2 separate regions of the Homo sapiens genome follow, and region 1 is linked to region 2. Evidence: fine-mapped expression QTL. A gene starts in region 2. The other region holds a variant in brackets. All regions are shown on one strand. Distances are from middle to middle. Region 1 has its middle 110 kb from the start of LINC02260. Region 2 holds the start of KIT (KIT proto-oncogene, receptor tyrosine kinase).

Evidence for each region.
Region 1: its variant is fine-mapped to the expression of KIT in fibroblasts (GTEx, PIP above 0.99).

The regions. Positions count from the first base shown.
Region 1 is chr4:54,497,197-54,500,099 of GRCh38, forward strand. No RefSeq gene overlaps it. Among named protein-coding and RNA genes, the nearest start is that of LINC02260, 110 kb to the right of the region's middle. The variant A/G (reference allele first, on the strand shown) is at 1,546.
Region 2 is chr4:54,656,430-54,659,332 of GRCh38, forward strand. It overlaps KIT (KIT proto-oncogene, receptor tyrosine kinase), which reads left to right and starts at 1,528. Exons shown (of 21, transcript NM_000222.3): 1 at 1,528-1,652. The coding sequence starts at 1,586. RefSeq lists a silencer at 813-1,107.

The DNA.
Region 1 (2,903 bases), 160 kb before region 2:
CAAGTGATCTGCCTGTCTTTGGCCTCCCAAAGTGCTAGGATTATAGGCATGAGACACTGTGCCCGTCCTGTCATGAACCTTTCATGCACTAACTTTCAGGGTGGTGGGGAGTATAAGCTGGTACACACTTCTAGGCCCAGCATTGGAAGGGGCCTGAAACAAATGTCAATCCTTCGTAAAGATTTTTAGCTAAGCATCTACTTTTGCTTAGGGACCCCCAACTCCAGTTTTTCCCTCTCATGGATTCTCAGTGGCCCGATCAATTTGTCACAACACTGTCCAACATGGTAACTATTTTAATCAGGGAGAAATGACAGAAGAAAAAGGAGACTCATGTTTTGTGTTGCTCCTTCTACATGTGACACTGTGAGAACAGGGCCCCTATTCCCATTTGATGGATGCTGAAACTGAAGCTTGGGGTGATGTGACTTGCCCAAGGCCACAGCTGGTGTGCTGCAGAGATAGGGTCAAAGCTGGCTCCATTGTCTCCAAAGCCTGACAGCTTCCCCTGAGCTGTGTCATCTTTTCATGAAAAAAGAGGAAAATTTGTTTGCACCTTCCCAGTCAAAAGGTTAAAGGAAGGCAAGAGGTTGGTGGACTGTCCCGGGCTTGCCTTGACATGGTTGTGCAGGGTTTCCTTGGGAGAGGGTATGCAGTACTGAGGAAGAGAGAAAGACACAGAAACCAGCTCCTGTTTTATAACTTCACCTAGCACCTGTATTTGTCAAGAAATCTTTCCAGCTGCAAATACTAGAAACCCAACTCAAACTGGTCGCATAGGAAATGGGGTCTATTGGTTTGTGGGCCTGAAAAGCATGCCAGGAGTTCTCCCCATCTCTCTCTTTCTCTATCTCTCAGCTCGGCTTTCCTCTATGTCTGCTTCATTCTCAGGCAGCCTCTCCCCACGTGGTGACACAAGTGACCAGCAACAGTCTAGACTTAATGTCTCACCAGCCTAGGACCCCCTCCCCCAGCTGACACAGTGGAACTTTTCCCCAACAGTTGTAGCAATTAACCAATCTTGTGAGCAAGGGGTTGCAGCACCTTGATTGTACAGGCCTTGAGTTCATCCCTGCCCCCACCACCAAGAATTCCATCAGCCTCCCTTGCATCACAGGGTTTGAGCATGGCTCCCCCAAAAAACAGTGAAGTGCTGGCACCATAGGAAGGGATGCTGGAGGGGCAAAAGCCACAGATATCCACTGGAATGTACGCCACAAAGACAGGTAAGGTTTTTGTTTGTTTGTTTCGTTTTAAAAAAAAATTTGTTTTAAATTTATTTACCACTGTGTCCCTAGGGCTCAGAACAGGGCTGAACACCTGACAGGCACATTCAAGAAACATTTCTTGAATGAATGATGGATGGACTGCAAAAAAAAAAATGTCCCTCCAGAATATGATGTCCAGGATAGCACGAATGGGAGATTGGGTACACTGCAGGTACAGACTAGAGTAGGGAGCAGAAGCTCTGGTCCTGTAGATGAGTTGTGTGTCATTGAATGAATGACACATGACTTCTAAAATGTTGGCATTCACCACATGTCA[A/G]TCACAGCATGAAACAGAGCTCTGGAATGCCAGTCTCCAGCAAGGGCAGGGCTTTTACAGTGCAGTTGCATACAAGTCCCCTGGGAATAAAGGGTGATGGGTCACTTTTTTCTTACAGGCTTGTGTCTACAAGATAGATATGCTTCATGTGCTGCTGCTTTTCCTCCCCAGATTCCCACTGTGAAATGGAAAGCCAGCATGGTGGCACCCATTCACTTGGAATGAATGTAGGGTCCTGGTCTGACAGGAGCCTGAGTGGTAGCATTCCAGAATGTCTACTCAATTGCTGTTAATCGGGTCTCATGTTATCTCTCATCAGCATGCTAACCCAGTGCCCCAGAGTGTATTCTGGGGAGAACATGTACTTCAACCCCCTGCCCAAATTACCTCCTACTCTCATTACCACCCTTTGGCTTTTCCGTGGCACATAGGAATAGCTGGCCTTTCTGAATTAGTAAGTAGAATATGCCCAGTCAATGTGTCTCAGCCAAACGTGGATTTCTTGACAAAAGACTGCGAGGATGTTAGATCTGGAAATACTTTTACAGACAAAAACAAAAACAACCCCTGAAAAGTCACTGCAATAAACTGCCTGGTTAGTATGCGCCCAGTGTATTTTGCCATTGTGGAAACTGAACTTAATTTGTTTTAACATGATGCAGCTATTTAGCATTTCCTCCCCCTCCTCCTCCTTCTAGTTAATTCTGAGTGGAGATAAATCTTGAAAACAGACTTGGAGGGCACAGCAGGAGGCCCTGCAAAGTCATTTGGGTTGTGGCTTTCACGGTGCCTCTTTGCTATTTTCTGAGCAATTAAAACTTAAGCAGGAAAATAAAGTGTTATTAAAGTGACTCATGAACATTATAGAGGCTGGGTGCATGGAATACTTAGCTTCTGACAAAGGGTTCCTTAGGCACCAATGGGTGTTCAAAAAAATTCCTATCGCCCCAGTAACTTCTCTGAACACTAGAAACGTAGGTAGAGAGGACTACACCCAGTGGGTTGTCAGCCCTTTAACTCTAACATCATTCCAGAGAGGTAGGCAAGCTACTGAACTGTCAGTTCTTAAAGTAGGGAACAAAGGCTCCAGGAGTTGAACAATTTTCCCCAGGCAATTTGTCTGAGCCAGTGACAGAAGCTCAGGTTCTCTGTCTGCAGAAACAAAGTGACAGGGCTGCACCGCATTAACCTCTAGGTCCCTCCCTTAGTATTGAGGTTTTGATCCTTGGTATTTTCTTCCTTGATCCAGGCAGCCATAACTACTGTTCGTTTTGGTCTGCTATGATTATTTGACTCTCCTTTTCACCTCCACATGCCTTCAGACACGCCATATTTCATTGAATCTAAGATAACATAGA
Region 2 (2,903 bases):
ATATCTGTCTATTAATAATAGTACTCCTGGTACCTAGCTCCTCCTTGCTTCACAGCAGACACTAAACAAATGCTTGCTGAGTGAGTAAATACTTACATTTAAAGAGAGGCAATTATACACATTGATCATTTGATCACCCTCTAGCACTGATAATTTTTAAGTGATTAGCTTTAAAAATCATTTTTCTTACATCAACCTGGGTCCTCACACTATTAAACAACAGGAGAGCTTTCAATATTAAATGAAGTGGGGCAGCTGGGCAACTGTAAATTTTGGATGATACTTCAGAGAAGAGTCTAGGTGTATCTGTTCTATCCCTTTTTCTGATGGGCATCTGCCATTTATTTTTCCATTCTTAAGCTCTCAGGAGGGATGTCTTATTAGTTTATCAGAATGCATAGGGAAAGCTCATCTTTCTTGGAGTAGGTCTTCCAATAAGTGTTCAAGCCCTGGGTCTTCCCTCACTACAATAATAAACATACCTGCTCTACCCTCCTCACAAAGCTGTTATCGTGAGCATGAAAAGACGAGTCGCTGTGGGGAAGAACTATTAACCCCTATACAGATACTGTTGTTGCTTTCCGTTCAAGGATCCACCATGAGACTGTGGGTAAGGCACTTTCTGGGCAGTGAAATCGGGCTTAAGAGAATCATTGTACTTTTATTTTGCTCCTGGGACCGGCAAGGGCAGTTAAGAGCCCTAGCCCTAAAACTGTCGTCTGTTACAGAGGCAGAGAAATCATTACTGGGGTTGGCAGCGTTGGGGGGAGGGGGGAAAACGTGTATGAAAACCTGGGCTCCCAGAGCAAACTTCGCCACGCGCCCTCCATCGCCCCTGTCTCCACACAAGTCCCGGCAGGGGCTTCTTGGGCGGAGGCCACGCCGACCAATAGGAACCCACTGTGTTCCTACAGGTTACGAAGCAGGTGGAGAAATTGAGCAGAAACAATTAGCGAAACCGGGCTCAGCCTTTACCGCGGTGCCAGGAGCTCCTAACAGGCCTGGAGGGGAATGTCGGGGCTCAATTTCCTAACGCTCCCCTCCCCATCCCCATGCCACCTCCACGAGCAGCGGCGTCCAGCCTCCTCCCGCCCGAACGTGCTCGAGGGGCGGGCAGTCGACCTTTATTGTCTGGGGAGCACCTGGCAGGTGGCGGGCCCGTGCCCTAACGTGTGCGTGGTGCCCAGCTTCACAAAGCGAGCGGGCAGCACCTCCTTGGTCCGGGAACGGCCTCAGCCTGGCCGTCCACATCCCAGGGGTGGAAAGGTGGAGAGAGAAAGGGGCTCCGGAGTCAAGAGCGGGGAGAGAGGGCGCGCGCGCCCTCCTCCTCCCGGCGGGCACGGCCCCCCGGCATTAACACGTCGAAAGAGCAGGGGCCAGACGCCGCCGGGAAGAAGCGAGACCCGGGCGGGCGCGAGGGAGGGGAGGCGAGGAGGGGCGTGGCCGGCGCGCAGAGGGAGGGCGCTGGGAGGAGGGGCTGCTGCTCGCCGCTCGCGGCTCTGGGGGCTCGGCTTTGCCGCGCTCGCTGCACTTGGGCGAGAGCTGGAACGTGGACCAGAGCTCGGATCCCATCGCAGCTACCGCGATGAGAGGCGCTCGCGGCGCCTGGGATTTTCTCTGCGTTCTGCTCCTACTGCTTCGCGTCCAGACAGGTGGGACACCGCGGCTGGCACCCCGACCGTGCGACTACTCGGCGAAGCCTGTGCCTGGGAGGGTGGTACCCGCCAGGGTGCATCCGGAGAGAGGACTGCGGGCCCTCAGTGCCCGTGCGTTCCAGCCTCCGGGGAGACTCCAGGTGGCCCTCGGACTCTCCGGCGCCCTGCCTCGCTCACCTGCGCGAGGAGACCCCAGCTGCTGGTGGTGGGGGACGCGAATCCGGGGTTCTTCGGGAATGGGGACAGCAAGAGGGGGTTAGGCGTGAGCGAGGCTGCAGGCTCCGTGCGAGTTTGGGGTGGCTTTTGTGCCGACGTTGCGCGGGGGGCGGAGGCGGGGGGCTCAGGGGTTTGCACCGAGCGCCTTCTCTTGCCGTGCGAGGCGCGGCCGCAGCTTCCTTTTGTTAAAAGTTGCGTGTGTGTGACCGGCGCCCGGGAGGACCTGCCTGCAGGTTCTCCGCCGCGCTGAGGGCAAAGTTAGAGAGCCCTTTCTCTGCTCTGCGGCTACTGCCTTCCAACCGCAGGCGCTCTTTGTGCCCAGAGCTGGGGACCGACCCGCTGCCGCCTCTGCTCGCGGCGCCACCCGTGGAGACCAATCGAAGGCTGCGGCGTTTCCCCGCCTCCGGGTTAGGCTTTTGCGCTGGGAGTGCGCGGCGTGGGGCTGTTGTGGGGCCGGACTCCCGCGAGCCTGGAGGTGGTGGCGACAGGGACAACTTGGGCAGGGCGTGTGGAAAGCAGCCGCTAGGTTGCAGACTTTTTGCTTTCGTACATCCCGTGCTCGCCCCTTTCTGCCGCGGCGCCGTTTCATTCCTGCCGCGCGCCCCGGGGCGGCTGGAGGCTGTGTTTGCCGCCTGCTCCGGGAAGGCAAGGGACAGCGTGCTGGGACTCTGCGTTCCCTGACTCCAACCGCCTAGCACGCCGGCCAGAGTGCCCGGCCTGCCTGGCGGGTTCTGAAAGCCCCTAGTTCCCGGTGTCTGCGACCTGTATTCGCAGGTCCTGTTTTCTTCGGAAATTTTTGAGATTCGTGACCGCCCGCCTCCCCGCCCCCGGGACTTCTATACTTCAGGGCTGCCTGGGGGTGGGGTGGGAGATGGCGTGGAACTTTCTGCAAATCCTACTCAGTTCTTAAAGCTATAACAGAAATCCAGGTATATCCGCGCGGGAACTGGGTCTTAGGTGAAGGATTTGCAGGTTGCTGGAGCCCCTTGGTCAGATTCCTGCCTCCCGTTCCCTTTTTTCCAGGTGTCGCTG